3 separate regions of the Homo sapiens genome follow, and all the other regions are linked to region 3. The links come from fine-mapping of genetic effects on gene expression. A gene starts in region 3. Each other region holds a variant in brackets. All regions are shown on one strand. Distances are from middle to middle.

Region 1 (6,459 bases), 65 kb after region 3:
TCCCACACCGGGCACCCAAGCACCCTCTGCCCCACAACTCCCACCAAAGAAATGCGGGGCCCCAGCTGCGGTGGAATCCCCTACAAGCCCTGGCCTGCTTCAGGAAAGAATGCCTGGGGGAGGTGGGCGGGCTCAGGAACGCCGAGGTGGGCAGAGCTTGGCCCACGGAGCCGCATGGCCCAGGTGCCCTCGACAGCCGAAGCCTGGTTTTTTTGTTTTGGTTTTTGGGTGGTTTTTTGTTTGTTTGTTTGTTTGTTTGTTTTGAGATAGAGTCTCTATCTGTGTGTCCCAGGCTGGAGTGCAATGGCACGATCTCAGCTCACTGCAACCTCTGCCTTCCGGGTTCAAGCAATTCTCCTGCCTCAGCCTCCCGAGTAGCTGGGATCACAGGCACCAGCCACCACACCCGGCTAATTTTGTGGGGTTTTTTAGTAGAGACGGGGTTCACCATGTTGGCCGGGCTGGTCTTGAACTCCTCACCTCAAGTGATCTGCCCACCTTGGCCTCCCAAAGTGCTGGGATTACAGGCATGAGCCACCTCGCCGGCTGGAAGCCTGTTTAACCCTGGTGTCTGCCGTGCAGTTTCTGGGAGGTCCTGTGTAGGGGCCCCAGTGAGGACTGGCCCCCCTCCTGAGCACTGCTTACTGGGCAGTCCTACGCTCTCCCACCTGGGTCTCCAACTTCTAAGCTGGGGGCGTGAGCAAAGGCCAGGACGGCCCCTCGGAATCCAAATTGGGGCCCCAGTGGGCTTGGGGAGCTGGGGGAGCCTCAGGGGGGCCTGGGCTTTCACCACCCCAGCAGGCAGGAGTTAAAAGTTCACCTGGGCTCGGGTGCCGAATTGTCTAGGAACTCTGGTTCCCATCTCCCTTTCTCAGCGGACTCCCCACCTTTAGAATCACCCAGGGTGGTATCCCATGGAGGGAGGGGAGGGCCCTACCTGGTGGCCTCTCGTCCAGCCCACCCTGCCTCCTGGGGGTCTCTTCCCCGTGTTTCTATAACCCCAGAGCCATAAAACTGACAACAGGTCCAGCAAAGAGACTGGATTTTATTTAGATCCATAGCCCTTCTTAACGCCACAGCCGGGGCACAGCCTGCGGCCGGGGTGCCACCATGTCACCTGACACAGAGGAATCCACCAGCGCCCGCCCATGTCTCATGGCCACACGGGGGCCATCTAGGCTCCCACAGAGGGCTGTGTTGGAGGGGCAGCTGAGGCTCCAGGAGGAGGGACAGACTTTGCAGGGGGCTTCAAGCTGTTCCTGACCCTGCCCCGGCCTGGTGCTCTGGGCCGGGCAGGGGTGTGCTCAGAGCCCATCCTTGGCCAGAGCTCCAGAAGCCGCTGCCCCAGGGCTTTTCTCCTCCATCTGACGCATCTGCTCCCCGGCACCAGCCTGGCTCAGACACCCTCCAGCCCGTGTGTGTGTTCCCGTGGTGGCTCCCATGCTAGGCCAAGGCTTGGGTGGGGCTGAGGCCCAGGGTGTGCTGAGCAGGCCGGGCACCCAGGCACTGCCTGTCATGACTGAAGAGGGCCTGGAGGAACCATGGGGGGCCGGTGGAGTCTGTGCGGGGCGGGGATGGGGGTGCCTTTGAGGCTTTCCCGGTAGGTTACCCCTTGCCTCCAGAGGCCTCTCCCTGGAGCCAGGCAGCCAAAAGACCCTTGTTGGAAACACCACCAGCTGCAGCCCCAGCTCCACAGACTGACGGTCCAGTCCCCTGGCGGCCACCACTGGGGTTTGGGGACTGGGGAGACGGCGCAGCTGAGAATCCTGGGAGGCCTGGAGACCGCACCACCGGGCCGTGCATCAGGATGGGGGACACCTGGCAAAGCCCAGCTGTTCTGTGCCAGCCCTGAGAGACCTGCAGCCAGCTGGCCAAGGTAGGGGGTTGAGCCTCCCCTCCCCAGGTGGCTCCGGGACCCAAGGAGAGAGCCCAGGAGGGCCGGCTCCGCCCACCCTCCCCCTTTCCTGGGAGGTGGGGAACAAGAACAAGGGGCTGGGTTGGGCCACCCACATCTGCTCCCCGGCACCAGCCTGGCTCAGACACCCTCCAGCCCGTCGCTCGCTCCAGATGAGGAGGGCCACAGGGTATTTTCCACGAGGAATTTAGAAATAGCTGTCGGCAGAGCCTTGGTAGGCAGGCTCCCTGTACCCAGGACCCTCACACCCACGTCCCAATTGCCCCACCAAGGGGGCCTGTGACTTCCCAAGGGACTTCCCCCCAGGGGGACTCCACGCCCCCCTTCTCTCTCTGCATGCCAGGGTAGAGTTGTGGCCCCCAAAATTCACATGTTGAAGTCCAGGACCTCAGAATGGGACCTTATTGGGAAATAGGATCACTGCTGACTATACTTAGTTACGATGAGGCCGTGTTGTGTGGTGGGCCCTATCCTCGACGACAGTTGCCCCACAGTAGAAAGGGCAGATCCAGACACCAACATGCACACAGGGAGGACCCGTGTGGACATGAGGGCAGAGGTTGGGCGAGGCGGCCGCAGGCCAACAGACGCCAAGGATGATCTCAGCCTGTGGAAGAGGGGGCGGCCCAGGACAGTCCGGGCTCACGGCCTCAGGGAGCCACCCCGATGGGCTCTGGCCTCGGGAACTGCGAGGCAGTTTCTGTTGTGTGAAGCTCCCCAGTCTGTGGACCTTGTTCCTGCAGCTCGGGAAACTCACACCGCACATCCTGGCGCGCAGGCCAGGCCGCCGCCCGGGTTTGAGGCCTTGCTGCTCCCTTGCTGCCCCCAGCCACCCGCACACTCTCACGGAGCCCAGCTCACGACACCCATGTAGTGTGCGACACTTTTGGAGAACCACAGGAATGTCCTTGATTAAAGCGTGCGCAGGGAGAAACGTGGCCTTGTTCCCACAGATGCCCACCAGGGTCCCTCACCTGCTCCCCCTTGGCGCTGGCCTTGGCCCCTTCCAGCCTGCCCCACCAGGCGGCCGCTCTGGTCCAGGGGCCTGGGTTTGGTCCCTTCCTTGGGCACTTGCAGGCGCTCTTCCTGGCCTGTCTGCCCTCTGCCCTCCCCTTTTCCTGGCCTGTCTGCCCTCTGCCGTCCCCTGCGGCATCCCCCAGCCCCAAGGGCGGTGGTCCCATGGCCAGACGGGATTCCTGTTGGGCTCCCGAGCTCTGGAAATGCGGCCGCTGCTCTGCAAATGTGCCTTCTCTGGGCCCTTCCGCCCTTCGAGTCCATCTCCCTCCCTGGCCTCCACGGTAGGTCCAGGTGAGCAGGGTCCCCTGTGGCCCCCACAGTCCCCTTGTGTCACCAGGCACCATCTGTCCCAGCCTAATTGCTGGAGCTGCTGACATCTGGGCCGGCCACAGTGCCTTCGAGGGCCTGGTTGGTCTCTGAGGCACGGCATCCTGCAGCTGAGGGCCTTCCCTGACGGCTGTGCCCTCCACCAGCCAGGGCCCAGGCACA[G/GC]CCCCTGAGGCAGGGTGTACATCCCTGGAGGCTGCGGTTGGGGAGGTGGTGGGATGAGCTGCCCTGTACCATGGCTGCGTGTGGGAAACAGCAGGAGGCCGGGGGAGCAGTGAACGGAGCTGGGCCCGCTTCAGGGATCTCGGCCTAGGGCAGGGGGTAGAATAAGGGAACAGAACCAAATTTGTCAGGGGGTGTGAAAGCTGCAAAGGGCTGGTCGGACAGGGAAAGGGGTTCTGGAGGGGAGGGTTTCTTTGTGTAGTGGGTGGAATGGTGGCCTCCAATATGTGATGTCCAACCAGAATCTCAGAATCTCAGAATTGGAGCAAGGGTCTTTGCAGCTGTCATGGAGAGGTTATCTGGAGATGAGGTCATCCCGGATCATCCCAGGGGGCCCTAAGCCCAACGACCCTCATCCTTATAAGGGATGGAAGAGGAGGAGAAACTCACATGAGATGAAGGCAGAGGCCAGAGTGATGGGGCCACAGGCCGAGGAGCACGGGAACCAGGGGGAGCTGGAAAGGCGGAAGGGCTCTGCCCAGAGCCTCTGGGGGCAGCAGGGCCCTGTGGACACCTTGGTTTCAGGCTCCCGGCCCTGGGAGCTGTAGGAGGACACCTGTGCTGTTGTGAGCCTGCCACCCTGGGGTCCTCCATGTGGCAGCCCAGGACCCCAGTGTTCTTTGTTCAGTGGTTCTGGGGTCTCCGAGGTGCTGGGAAGCACAGGTGTGGGGGACCTCAAGACAGGTGGGGCTTTCCCAAAGGAGCAGAGGAGGCACCTGCAGAGGGGCCCAGAGAGCACACCCGGGTTCAGCAGATGGTGTAGAGGGCGCCCGGGCAGAGGATGCACGGGCAAAGGCCCTGGGTTGTGCAGGGCGTTTATAGACGTGCATGGAGTCGGGGAGAGGAGGGCCGGCCCTGGGGGCCGCCTGGGCAGGGCTCCTGCCCGCAGACCAGACCCAGACCTGGCCAGTCCACTCTGGGAGAGTCAGGGTCGGGGGAGCAGGAGGGGGATCCGCAAGCTAGAAGGGTCTCGGGGCTGGCCAGGCTGAGGCCGCGCAGCCTGTGATGAAGGGGGCCGTGAGGGGCTCTCTTCTCCTGAGAGAATTCTAGAACCAGTGGGTGGCTCAGGCCCTGAGACTGGGCGTACTGGGGTGTGTCCATCTGGGACCCAACATGGCAGCCTCCCAGGCCTCAGGAGCTCTCTGGCCTGTGCCACGTGTCCCCAGTGCCCTGGTGGGCTCTGTCCCTACACAGCAGCTTCTTGGGTAGTAGGTGGGCTGCAAAGGGATATCTGAGTTGGGGGTCAGGGGCTGCAGCGACTTGAGCTCAGCCCAGGTGCATGGTGTGAGGAAGCTGTCCCTCTAGACGGCTCGGGGCCCTGAGCTCAGTGCTCCAGGCCTGCCCCCACGGTCCCTAGAGGGAGGCAGGTGGACAGGACATGCCTGGACAGGACAGAGCCTGGGCTGGCAAACACTTGGAGGGGGCTGGGGCTCCCGCCTGCCTCTCCCCAGCACCGTCTCAGCACAGGTGAGCAGAGAAACCAGACCCTCCCCCTCAGCCTGTTGGAGGGCAGAAGTGAACACCCCTGTCCCCCAAATCCCTGTCATGCTTTTTTGAGCCCCAGGAGGGGACACGGCATTGTCCTGGAGCCACAGCATTGGTCTGACTCTGACTCGCATTCGATGATGGTGGACCCGTGGGCAGGTCACGCTCCTCCCTGGGCCTCAGGAGCCGCCCAGTGCCAGAGCCGGGGGCACAGCATGGCAAATGTCATTCCCAGCCTGCCTGGCTGCCTGGCAGCTCTCGAGAGAAGCCCACAGCCCCGCTCCTGTCTCCCTGCTTCCTTTGAGTGAGGCCCGGCCTGGCCCTCTGCCGTGTTCAGGCCACCAGCACCGGCTGCACAGCCAGCGCCCACCAGAGTTGACTCCTCGGGCCTCTGAGCACCTTCCCACTGCCTGGAGTGGCCGGCTGACCAGCGTCCATGCACTGCCTTCCCCACCCAGAGGCATCTCCCTGTCATTGTTGAGTGCGCAGTTCCCAGCTAGCAATCACCTCCCCATCCTCACGAGCACCGGGCATGGTCCTGTGACTACAACCTGAGCAATATAAGCAGAAGGGCTGGGCCGACTTCATGGCTTGCCAAAAGACCCTCCCCCTCCCCCTCCTCCTTCCCTTTCTCTTCCCCCTTCCCCTTCCCCTTCTCCCCCTTCCCCTTCCACTCCTCTTCCCCTCCCCCTCCCCCTTCCCCTTCCCCTTCCCTTTCTCCTTCCCCTCCCCCTTCACTTTCCCTTTCTCCTTCCCCTTCCCTTCCCCCTTCCGTCCCCCTTCCCCTTCCCCTTCCTCTTCCCCTCCCCCTTCTCTGAATCAGGGTCTCACTCTGTCACCCAGGCTGAGGTACAGTGGTGAGATCATACCTGGGACCACAGGTGCACATGGCTAATTCTTGTATTTTTTGTAGCGACAGGGTTTTGCCATGTTGGCCAGGCTGGTCTCAGACTCCTGGGCTCAAGTGATCCACCAGCCTCGGCTTCCCAAAGTGTTGGGATTACAGGTGTGAGCCTCCATGCCCAGCCCCAGCTGAAAGCTTTTCAGTAGTCTTTTACCTTCCCTCCTTTCTCCTTCCTGCTGCCTGGAATGCAGATGCAATGGCTGGAGCTCCTGCGGTTGCTATGGAACCATCCTTGACTTCTCCCTTTCAGTCACACCCCTCATCCAATCTATCGGGAAATTCTGTTGAGTCCATGTTCAGATATCCACAGCTTGGACCACTTCTCCCCACTTCCTGTGTCTCCACCACGATCCGGGTTATCTCTCTCCGGGATCGTCATGTTCTCCTCACTTCCGTCCTGGCCTCCCCATGGTCTGTTCCCACCCAGCAGCCAGAGGGTGAGACCATGTCAGCCTCTGCTCAAACCCACCCTCAGCCCAGGTCCTCACAGGCACCCTGCAGGATGCGCCCTGCCTCCCCTCGGGCCCTCCCAGCACCCCCTAGCTCACTGCCTGGCAACCCCACTCCTGCTGGTGGGCCTACAAAAGCTCTG
Region 2 (6,459 bases), 36 kb after region 3:
CACTCACCTGGCAGGTGAGCCTGACCAGCACAATCAGATCTGGCTGAGCAACTTAAACGGGAACCTGCAGCATGCCAGGAAGGCACGAGGGCTTCTCACCCCAGGCACAGACCGTACATTTTACAACTTCCTTTTGAAATGTGAGTATCGAGTCCTTCCGTTTTCCTTTTTGCTTTTAGAGCAATACCACGAGAGTTTTTTAAGTGCCAGGAAGTATGGAGAGCAAAACACAGGCTGCACAGCGCCGCTCCTGACAAATGCCCCAGGACTCTCCTGGCCCACAGGTTTCAGGGTGCAGGCAGAACCCCCCCAAACACACGCACACATGGCCGTGTTATCTCCAGCAGATGTGCAACAAGCAGTGAGCAATTTCAAAGTCCAGGAAGAAGAAGAGAGAAGGGCACGATGAGGCCCTAATTTCAAGTGCCTGTTTTGGCCCCAGTGTGCAGCCAGGACTCTACTGATCTGCACCGGGATGCCAGGGCCATTCATTCCGGAGGAGGCGGCAGAGCCAAGGACGGATGGCCTCAGACGCCACCTGCCCCAGGACCCCCAGCTGTGGTCTCTAGTACAGGACACAGGAGCCAGACCACCTGGCTCAAATCCTTGCTCTGCCACTCACCAGCCCCACCTGTGTGTCCCTAGGCAAGTGACTTCTCGGTGCCTCAGTTTCCTCATCTGTCAACAGAAGCATCTCCTCATCCAGCCGTGGTAAGGACCAAATAAGTTAACACACAGGACGGACTGGCCGTGATGACTCTCCCTGGGCTAGGAAACAACTGCAGAACTTTCTAGAACTAGTTTTGAAGCATGCCATTTTCAGAATGGACTTTTACATAGGATGGACTGTGGAAGACGGAGCCAGAAGTTCCTATCGGCCTCAGGGCGGTAATTTGTATACAGGCCATGGAGGTGGGGGGTTAGGTCCATCACACAAGAGTCCCGGTCCTAGAACTTTACCTATGACATAGACCCAGAGAAGGGGAGAGGGGACTTTAGCACGAAGACTGTCGTGAGATGGTTAGCCACGAGAGGTCAAGGGTGAAGGAGCAGTGCACCCAGGCCCCCGCAACAGGTGGAGAAGCAAGGAAGCAGAGCCCCTGCAGGCTTGTAGGGACCGTGGAGAAACGCTCACGGCACATGGGCCGAAGACAAGAAAGCAGGTGGCATGGCCGCAGCCGCACCTCCGGGAAAGGAGCAGCCACGGGCGCTGACGGAGGAAACAGCCAGGTCCACCTTGGGATGAAGGGGGTTGCGTAAGCTTTCCTACTTGAGTCACAATACATTTAACGCCATTGTCAATTTTTTAACAAGATAAAAATGGGTCACGTACAGAAATACAGATGCTGCTCAGGTACAAAACATCAAACACTGAAAGTTGGCCTGGCCAGATGCGCGGAGGGACCCCACGGCCATATGACGGGCTCTGGCCTTGCCTCCTCGATCCTGCCTCACCCGTGCCCAGGTGCCTGAACTCCGCAGAAGAGAGGAGCACCAGCACGTGGGGGAGGCACCCAGTCTTTGGTGCTTGGCCTCTGCTGCGAAGCCAGAGGCACGTGGCTGGTGGAAGTCTGCAGGAGGCTGTGGTGACCGCACACCTGGCCACATGGACAGTGAGCCAATGCTATCGTTCCCAAGGCCCAGGGAGACCCACCGCCCCCAATGTGGCTGCTGGACTCTCCCCTGGATTCTCTGAGACCACTCAACCCGCCTTGGCTGAAACAGTTCAAGAGGAACGTGTGCCTCTAGCCACCAGGAGTTCCAGCTGAAGGGACATACCAGGCTCACAGATCTCAGGCTGCGGGACAGAAGATGGATGGGCCACCGGGCAGAGCTCCCAAGGGGAGGCAGGAGGGGAACCTGGACGGGGCAGGGCTCCTCCAGCACTGCAGAGTGGCGTCTGCACCCCCATGCTCGGAGCGCAAGACAGCACAGCGGGCCTTTCATGGTTCACTCTGCCGCAAGGAGAGAACCAGGACAGCCCCACGCTCGGGGCGAAAGACAGCGCAGCGGGCCTTTCATGGTTCACTCTGCCACAAGGAGAGAACCAGGACAGCCCTCTGGTTTCAACTCCTACAGCTGAAAGTTTCTTAGAAAGAACTAAGTAGCTGCCTGGCCTACATGTGTTACAGTGAAAAAACCCAGCCTCACTTTTTATTTTTCTTTCTCTTTTAGACACAGGGTCTCACTTTGTAGCCCAGGCTGGAGTATGGTGGAGCGGTCATGGCCCACTGCAGCCTTGAACTCTTGGTTCAAGTGATCCTCCTGCCTCAGCCTCCCGAGTCACTAGGACTACAGGCATGCGCTGCCATGCGTGGCTAATTTTTGTTAATTTTTTGTAAAGATGGAGTCAAGTGATGTTGCCCAGGCTAGTTTCAAACTCCTGGGCTTAAGCAATCCTCCCACCTCGCCCTCCCAAAGTGCTGGGATTACAGGTGTGAGCCACCATATCCAGCCTATTTTTAAAATGTGTTTAAAGACAGGGTCTTGCTCTGTTGCCCCAGCTGGAGTGTAGTGATGCATTCACACTCAGCCTCAACCTCCTGGACTCACACAACCTCGCCTCAGCCTCCTGAGGAGCTGGGACCACAGGCACCACCAATATGGCCTACATCAAACTCAGCCTCTCTTATGGTTCAAAAATCTGCTATATTGTTAAAATTTTTCAAAGTTACACAAAAGTCAAGAGAACTGTGCAGTGGGCCGGGCGCGGTGGCTCACGCCTGTAATCCCAGCACTTTGGGAGGCCGAGACGGGCGGATCACGAGGTCAGGAGATCGAGACCATCCTGGCTAACACGGTGAAACCCCATCTCTACTAAAAATACAAAAATTAGCCGGGCATGGTGGCGCGCGCCTGTAGTCCCAGCTACACGGGAGGCTGAGGCAGGAGAATGGCGTGAACCCGGGAGGCGGAGCTTGCAGTGAGTCGAGATCGCGCCACTGCACTCCAGCCTGGGCGACAGAGCGAAACTCCGTCTCAAAAAAAAAGAGAACTGTGCAGTGAACGCCATGTGCCCATCTCCAGACTCTGGCCATTATCAGCTCCTGCCCATCAATCTGGTTCCTCTAGGCTCCCCCAACTTCCGCCCTCCCGGGACTCCTCTGACGCAAATCCCCACTTTCCTGCTATATCTCTGGTTCGGGACAGCTGGGGGCTTATGGGAAGCGAGCCTGACCTGTGCTATTACGATCCGGAGAGTGCCCCGAGGGTCTTACCTGCTGCTCACACAGCAGCGTGCTCAGGGCCTGCCTGCATGGCAGGATCATCATGGGGAAGCCCACAGCCACTGACATCATGAAGCCCACACGGAGCATCTCCGTCACCAGGTTGGAGGGAAAGTGCATGAGCACGTTGCCGGCCGTGGCCTCGGTGAAGCTGACGTAGCCGAAAAACCCCACCTGTTGGAGAATAAGAAATGGCAACGTGGCAGACAGACATCCTAGCCGAGTGGCACCTGTCACAGTGGGCAGGGCATGGGGGGGACCTGTGCCCTGCCCCCCAGAATGGCCTTCAATCCACTTCATAATGAAGCTTCTGCAAGAGATGGCCTTCCAGGGGCAAGG[C/T]ACCATTTCGCCTCCTCCTTCTAAAAATCTCTAGTTTCTGTAAGAACATGCCCATTTCTTTCTTTTTCTTTCTTTTTTTTTTTTTTTGAGACGGGGTCTCCCTCTGTAGACCAGGCTGGAGTGCAGTGGTGCGATCTTGGCCTCGGCGTACCTCTGCCTCCCCGGTCCTGGTTCAAGCAATTCTCCTGCCTCAGCCTCCCGAGTAGCCGGGTTTACATGCACGTGCCACCATGCCCAGCTAATTTTTGTATTTTTAGTAGAGACAGGGTTTCACCATGTTGGCCAGGCTGGTCTTGAACTCCTGACCTCATGATCTGCCCACCTCGGTCTCCCAAAGTGCTGGGATTACAGGTGTGAGCAACGGCGCCCGGCCGGAACATGCCCATTTCTACAGAGAATTAACAGAGGTCTTGGAGAGAGAGTAAGAGTGGCTCGGATAAAGGGTTCTGGGAGCAGCCCTGGTGCCCAGCTCCTCAGGTCAGGAGAGCTTCCTGGCCCAGGGTGGACCCAGGCTCACAGGGCTGGTCCTGGAATGATGGAAGCTGATGGAGCTGCCCCAGGTCCCCGCGCAGCCTCCAGACACTGGGATGGGAACAGAGAGAAAAACCCAGCAGCACACAGGGCCAGGGCCATGCCTGTGGCAGTCCCACGGGGCACCACGGCACATCATGCTGGCATGACACAGGGGCGGAGAGGGCGTGGCAAGGCTCTTACCATGACGTAGAAGGTGGTGACCACATTAAGGGAGGAAGCAAATATGGAGCTCATGGTTTTCACTGACGGCTCATCCAGGCTGTCGTAGGTGGGCAGCACCTGGCTGTATAGAAACAGGCCATTTCACAGCGGACCTGAGAGAGGCACGCCCTCCCCAGCGGCTCCACTTCTAGGACCTCTCTGCAGCCCAGTGAGAGTCTCTGACCTTCCTTCATGCAACATTCTCTGCACACTGGAAGTCCCAGCGCTGAGGCCAGGACTTGGTGTTGCTGAGGACAGGAGCGTTGCAGCAGCCCCCACTCAGGACACCCCCCAGAGCGTGCACCATGCGAACATTCCCCAAGGCTACAGAACGACAGGCTGCTGCTCCACGCCAGGGAGCGGGTGCTGAGAGTCAAAGCAGCCAGTTTACAGGGCAAGCAGCCGGAGGAGGCTGCTCAGAGAATCGCTGTCAAGAGGAGGGAAAGTTAAACAAACACACCCTGGCCTGGGCGGCCGGCCCATCTCGGCGCCTCCATCTCGGCGCCTCCGCACAGGCATGATCAGAGTCGGCACAGACAAGGAGGCGGCCTGGGGCGCGATTCCCCACTGCAGCCTCTCACTTGTGTGATGAGAAAACTGGCTTCGGTCCCACAGCCTGGTGCCAGGAGTGTGGTGCTGCTAGGGGTGGGAGGGACCCAAGCCACCAGCCAGGCAAGGACATGACAGCCCTGCACAGGCAGCAGACGCATCCGAGGGACCTGCACAGGGACCTGGGCCTCTGGAAAGGGGTGGGCGAGACGACAAGGGAGAGGCTGGGGCCATGGAGCATCTGTGTGCAGCCGGGGAGAAGGGAGTTGGGCCAGGCACACGCCAGAGCACAGGTGAGAGCTGCTCTGCCATGGGGCTGAACGAGGACTCTGGAGTGGGAGTCCAGGGGGGTGCTCCTAGGGTGTCCAGGTGGCCATGGCCATGGCTGTCCCAGGGCAGGGGCTCAAGGGCACAAAGGAAGCTAGGTGGGCCGGGGGAGGGCGGGATGCAGAAAGCCAGCAGCCAGTAAATGGACCAGCACAGCGGCCAGCGGAGCCAAATCCCAAACCGCCTTGAAGAAAGTGAAAGAAAACACAGGACATCACCAGCACAGCGGCCAGCGGAGCCAAATCCCAAACCGCCTTGAAGAAAGTGAAAGAAAACACAGGACATCCTGACTTTATTAAAAAGCAAACCAGGCCAGGCACAGCGGCTGACACCCAAATACCAGCACTTTGGGAGGCCGAGGCAGGAGGATCACTGGAGCCCGGGAGGTCGAGGCTACAGTGAGCTGTGATCGCATCACTGCACTCCAGCTTGGGTGACACAGCAGGACCCCATCTCCAAAAAAAAGAAAACCCAGCAGACTGACAAGTGAGAAGGTCCTGCCAGCAGCTGCTGGTGTCCCGTTGCCCAGGTCCTAGCACACCATCCCATCAGGCCGCCCTCAGCATGGAGTGCCATCAGCAGCAGTCAGGGGACCCCGCAGGACATGAGCCTTCCCCTCGGCCCAGGCTAGAAGGGAGCTAAGTGGCCAACGCCTGTGCACACAGCCCCAGGAGGCTGGCAGAGAATCAGGAGAAACACCCAAGAGGTCTCCACGGCCCTAGACCCACAGCTACAGAAGAAGGCCATGTTGCGGCATGAACTTCCCAGTGCTAAACTGTCCTCTCGCCACAGCTGAGTCCACACCAGGGAGTCTTGGCTTGAGGGGACCAGCGTTGGTGCCCCATGACACGTGCTTACCCCCAGCCCCCAATACACCCTGTGGGGAGTGACCCCCAAGGAAGCCACGGACACTGTGGGAAGGGGTGTCCCACGCACACGGGGTGGCCAGGGTGGAAGGCCAAGCCCCAGGCTCCTCTCCAATCCTGACCACCTACCCCAGGGACCCCCGGGATCATCCCTGGAAAGAAACAAGGTAGGAGCCACAAAACCTCCTGGCCACCTGCAAAGGAGCTCCACAGATGGGGGACATGCTGAGCGCTGGCCCATGGCCCCAGACGGAGCATCCCTGGCCCGCCCACCTTGCAAGGCAGCCTCTGAGCCTCAGGGCCTACCAGAGTCAAATGGAGCCATCCACATGCAGCTCTTGGGTGTGTGCCCCTCTGCCCTACTGTGAGGATGGGGACCCTGGTCTCCAGATAGACCCTGACCTCCAGGGCCTCCT
Region 3 (5,036 bases):
CCTCTCTCAACAGTCAGGGATGAACAGCCTCGGAGAAGAGGCAAATCAATGGTGGTTCTCCACGGAGGAGCTGCGCCACTTGGGTTAAGAAGGGACACAGCCCCCAGCCTCCCTGCACTTACCAGCATGTAAGGCTATTTGAAGGTACCTCTCCTGTACCTACCTACTGACTAGCAAAGCCAAACAAGGCCCAGGCAAGCCCCTTTTCCACACAGGGGACTATGAATCGTTCCACCTCCCCAGAGGCCGGAATGGCAGAGTGACAGCCGCTCAGCGTGACTAGCTCCATCGCTCCCCGAGAACCGACTGATGTCGTGTGTTTTACGTTCGCTTAGCGCAGACGTACTTATTTGTTTCATGCTTACTTACTGGCACAAAGATGTACGGTTTATAGGGATGAAAACTGGAACCACCCATTCTTGCATTATTCAGTATCAGGACAGAATAGAGTTCAAGAGTATTTAACAGGACAAGCATGGGACCCACCGCGTGAGGTGCCGAAGCCTTTCGGTCGGAAGGGCCGAGATCTAGTGACAACATACGAAAACGTGGACCTGAAGTGTTTCCCGAGGCTGTGGACACGCATCACTGACACTGTTTGCCCACCACGCCCTAAGGGGAGCTGCTGAGGTTTGCAGGTGACAGCTGACAACTGCAGAACGCAGCACAGAACGACTATGTCGAAACCTTGCACTGAGAGCCTTGACCAACCCTAGCGTGGCTTCTGGCAGCCCAAGGTCGCGCCCTGGGACCACCCAGCCCCCTCTGAGGTCCAGCCCAGGAAAGCTCAGGGCTGACAAAAGAGGGCAGTTTGCTCAGGACGACACCTGGGAACTCGCCCCGGCCTCTACTTCTCAGAGGGTTTACTAAGAGGGGCTTACAATGGTGCGTCCTTCTCTGTCCCTTCGAGACGTCTGTGTTCTCTGCAACCCAGGGGTGCCTCTCCAGGACCGGAGTCCTCTGAAACGCCACCGTCAGGGAGGACGGCGGGCTGCCAGCCCACCTGGGCGCCAGCAGCACGGACACAGCGGCTCCACGTCCACCGGGTCCGCCGCTCCTTCCCTCCCGTCGGAGGCCACTGAATGCTGGCCGAGGCCTGTTCGTTCCCCCAGGGTCTGGCTGTGCCCATCGCCCTTGCGCTCGGCGGGTCCGGCTTGGAAGGCCCGGCTTGGAAGGCCCCGGGACGGCGCGGCGGGCGGGCAGCTCAGGGGCGTCGGCGCGGGCGAAGGGGCCAGGAGCAGCTACCCGGCGCGGAGACGCAAGGTCAATGGCTCCGGCCCGGGGCGAGTCCGGGGAATGCGGCGCTCGAGAGGAGCCGTGGGACCGGGGCCCGGGCGGACCGCCCTCACTCACCCGGTGTAGAAAGCTCAGGCGGTCCCGTAGCGGCGGCGCGGCAGCCATGATCCAGGTCCCCTCCCGGTCTGCCCCGCTTCCGCCAGGCCCGGGCCCTCCAATCACTGCGCGGGTCTGGGTCCGCCGGCCAATCCCTCACGGTAGGGCGGGCCCTGAGGTTGGCTTCGTAAACAATTGGAGCCTAGGCCAATCCGAAGTCCCAGAGCACAGACAGACTAGGACAAGAGCCAATTGCGGGGGCTCGAGGCCAGGCAAAGCCTGGCCAATTAAGAAGTTCAGGAAAGGTTATGGGCGGAAGCGCCGACCTATCAAGCTGTTTGACACCGGAAGAGGACGGACCTAAGATGGCGGCCTCCAGGGGGCTGGGAATAGCCGCTCATGTCGGCTAACGGAGCGGTGTGGGGCCGCGTGCGAAGCCGCCTCCGCGCCTTCCCCGAGCGGCTGGCCGCCTGCGGGGCCGAGGTGAGGAGCCGCGGGCGGGCCAGTGCTGCGGGGCAGGAGGAGCCGCGCGGGGAGGTGGCTGGGAGGGAGGACGGTGACGGGGTCAGGGGACCCCACGACCCACGCCCGTCCTTTCCGCAGGCCGCGGCGTACGGCAGGTGCGTGCAGGCCTCCACGGCCCCGGGCGGCCGCCTGAGTAAGGACTTCTGCGCGCGGGAGTTCGAGGCCCTGCGGAGCTGCTTCGCCGCTGCGGTAGGTGGGCGCGGGCCCCTTCCCCCCTTCCCAGCCCTTCCCCTCCAAGAGCCAGCGGGCCCCGGCTTTCCTTTGCTTTCCCGTTGGTTCAAGGTTTGAGCGCCTGCCGCGTGCTTTAGACGCCGGCTGACAAAATCACCGAGCCATCGACGAGCCCGCGAAACCTCGGCCGTCCTGGGCTTGTCCCTGCATGTTTGTAAAGCGGGACTGGCACCAACCTCAGAAAGGATGGGAGATGTGTGCAAAAAAGCGCCTTGTAAAACGCGTAAGCTTTCGTGTTAGCACTGCCGCCGGGGGGTGTCATGCCAGGATTGACCCAACACAGGACTCCCGGAAAGTGCCCAGCACCTTCCGGGTCTTCACCTCCCTGGCACTTGCAGCCCCTGTGCACCTGCAGTGGTGGATTCCTTCAGCACGTGTCCTGCGGGGAACCCCCAGCCACCCTCACAACTGGCACGATAGGGCTTCTTGCCCGTGGGGCTTTAAGTCATTCTGAGGCTGGTTCCCTAAGTGTCAGCCGCACCGGGTACCACCTCAGTGTATCTGGGTAGGCCTTGATGCCAGTGCTGACTCTGTTTACTGGGAGCTGTTAATCCGGAGATTTGGACCAGAGAAAGGGTATTTGAACAAGAGTTCCACGGCCTTCATCCCTACCCGGCCCCAGCAGCCTTGGATCCAGGGGTGGACAACTCATCAGAAGTTGCACTTTTTGCTGGGTGTGGTGGCGCGTGCCTGTAATCCTACCGCTTTGGGAGGCTGAGGTGGGTGGATTGCTTAGGCCTAGAAGTTTGAGACCAGCCTGGGCAACATATGGAGACCCCGTCTCTACAAAAAAAAAGAAAAAAAAAATTAGCCAGGCATGGTGGTGTAGTCCCAGTTACTTGGGAGGCTGAGGTGGGAAGATCACTTGAACCTGGGAGGTGGAGGTTGCAGTGAGCCGAGATCACGCTGCTGTACTCCAGCCTAGGCAACAAAGTGAGACTGCATCTCAAAAAAAAAAAAAGGGGGGGGGCTCCTGCTTTCCCTCTATGAGAGCTTGAGACCAAATGTGGCATCTCGTGGGGGCTCAGAGGAGGGGGCAGCAGTGAGTTCTGTGATAGTGTCATGAGGCCCTTGTCCCGTGGACAAGTGACCCAGAGAACCTGCCCATGGGGCCCCAGGCTCCAACCAGTCGAGCCCCCACCATATGCCAGCACCCAAGTTCTCTGTAAGGTATTTGGTAGAACACAACGTGTGGTGTGGTAGCTTGCTTTTGAGGCGTATCTAACTTGGAAGCAAGCCATTCAGACAAAACACTTTATCTTGCAGGCCAAGAAGACGCTGGAGGGAGGCTGTTAGGAGGGACTCTGAGCTTCACACCTGTCTGCTGCCATGGGTGCAGAGCCCTAGTCCTGATGGCCCCTGGTGGCACATATCGAATGCCTAGGGCAGAAAGGAAGTGGGAATGGCGAAGATGTGACATTCCTCGGTGTTAGATCCTGTTTTTTCTTAACAAGTTGAGGCGTGGGTAGAGCAGGAATTGGTTTTCCAGCATTGTGTCCGTAAACCTGAGTTAGAATAAGATGTAACGGAAGCCACGATAAAGACTCGGTCAAATCCTGCAGCCTGGGGCTTACTGTGTGCAGACTGCAACATGTGGGTCTTGGCCTCTCTGAGATGGAATGGGGCCCAGAGCCTTTCCCCCAAAGCTGGCAGGGCTGGGACTTGGGGACACCCTGCCTCAAGGTCCCCGTTTTAAAACACTCTCACTAAGGTATTTAATGTGAATCTGGTGAAGCCTGCAGACCTTGCTGTGGGTATACAGCACACACCAAAGACAAGGACGTCAGCACCACGAGGGGACACTCCATGGGGCAGGGTCCTCGCAGGTGGCTTTCCTGGACACGGGGCAGGGCGGAGGCTCTTCACAAAAGGGCCTGAGTCTCCGAGAGGGGCCTGCGTAGAGCACCAGCAGCCAGTGCCCCTCCTGTGTGGGGTTGGTCGCCCCCTCGGCAGCCCAGGTACTTCACCGATGGCGCCTGCCCTCTCGTTCCCCCTCCCTATCACATCACTTGACCTAAAACTAAGGTGAGAAGGGCCACATCCTGACTCTGCCCGGGCACTTGTTGATGGTGAGACCCCGGAGTCCATGGGGCCTGAGCGCCACCTGCAGGGCGTGGCGGGGACTGCTTTGAGAGCCCCCCTGCTCCGGGGTGCAGAGGCTGCACTTTCCTGGGGCTGCAGCCTGCGCCTGCCCCCAGGCCCGTGCTAGCGGCTGACCCCGTGGGCTGAGGTCTGTTCCTCCATGTTTCCTCCTCCAGATGCTGCCCCAGAATTAACCTGGTTTCCCCTAAGGGTCTGATCTGGGTGGTGGGTCTGCAGGAGCCAGGCCAGAGTGCTGGATTTTGTCCCAAGGGCCAGGATAGTGTCACATCTTGGGAACCACGGAAATCCAGACCAGACTCCTGGGGTCAAGCCACCGCAGTCCATCCCTGTGCATGCCAGACTCAGATGCCCTGCGCTGGCACAAACCACCCGACCCGCCTCCCCAGCGTGCAGGGCCGGCTGCCCCCCACCCCTGCCTTCCTCCTTCTTGTGCCCAGCACTCATCCATGAGCGAGCCTCAGTGTGCAGACGTCCTTTTCTTAGCCCTGTCACGCCCTCTCCGTTCTCTGGCAGCTCATTGGCAGAGCTTCCTGCATCTTCTCCCTCCAAATCCAGCCTCCCATCCCACCCACAGACCTGTCTTGCCAGCACTCCCCCTCGCTGTCCTTCACCCTGTGTGTGAGGTGGTGACAGACCTGCCACTTCCTGTGGCCCAGCGTGGCCCACACCTCCAAACTCAGCTCTCAGGCCTCCGGGGTACACCCTCTTTTCTGCCACCCCAAATTTCCTTGCAAACCTCCCACCTTTGCTCTGCCCTTCCTCCCTGAGTGACTGGATTTCAGCACCACATCGATTGACAGCTCAGGAAGCTGGGCGGGTGGGGGGGGGGGAGGCGGGGGGGAGGG

Direction of the effects. Alleles are on the strand shown, and positions count from the first base shown. SD is a standard deviation of normalised expression in the study named. Not every link is listed here.
For the expression in prefrontal cortex of the gene that starts at base 1,686 in region 3, allele GC in region 1 goes with a higher level than allele G (moderate effect, 0.44 SD a copy in GTEx).

What was found. PIP is the estimated chance that this variant, and not a neighbour inherited with it, causes the effect. A credible set is the group of variants that fine-mapping cannot tell apart.
Region 1: its variant is the best candidate, but not a certain one, in a credible set for the expression of NDUFAF8 in prefrontal cortex (GTEx, PIP 0.56).
Region 2: its variant is the best candidate, but not a certain one, in a credible set for the expression of NDUFAF8 in whole blood (INTERVAL, PIP 0.70).

The regions. Positions count from the first base shown.
Region 1 is chr17:81,301,798-81,308,256 of GRCh38, forward strand. LINC00482 (long intergenic non-protein coding RNA 482) reads right to left here. Exons shown (of 4, transcript NR_038080.1): 2 at 5,833-6,047; 3 at 3,869-4,020; 4 at 1,027-3,565. Among named protein-coding and RNA genes, the nearest start is that of LINC00482, 4.2 kb to the right of the region's middle. RefSeq lists a cis regulatory region at 642-840. The variant G/GC (reference allele first, on the strand shown) is at 3,422.
Region 2 is chr17:81,272,751-81,279,209 of GRCh38, forward strand. SLC38A10 (solute carrier family 38 member 10) reads right to left here. Exons shown (of 16, transcript NM_001037984.3): 7 at 4,281-4,383; 8 at 3,219-3,401. Among named protein-coding and RNA genes, the nearest start is that of SLC38A10, 19 kb to the right of the region's middle. The variant C/T (reference allele first, on the strand shown) is at 3,567.
Region 3 is chr17:81,237,633-81,242,668 of GRCh38, forward strand. NDUFAF8 (NADH:ubiquinone oxidoreductase complex assembly factor 8) reads left to right here and starts at 1,686. Exons shown (of 3, transcript NM_001086521.2): 1 at 1,686-1,815; 2 at 1,936-2,046; 3 at 3,355-3,678. The coding sequence starts at 1,732. The coding sequence ends at 3,384. TEPSIN (TEPSIN adaptor related protein complex 4 accessory protein) reads right to left here and starts at 1,423. Exons shown (of 13, transcript NM_001363764.2): 1 at 1,354-1,423. The coding sequence starts at 1,401. RefSeq lists enhancers at 747-1,329, 1,573-1,792, 2,173-2,252 and silencers at 1,113-1,202, 1,305-1,520, 1,763-1,912, 4,797-5,036.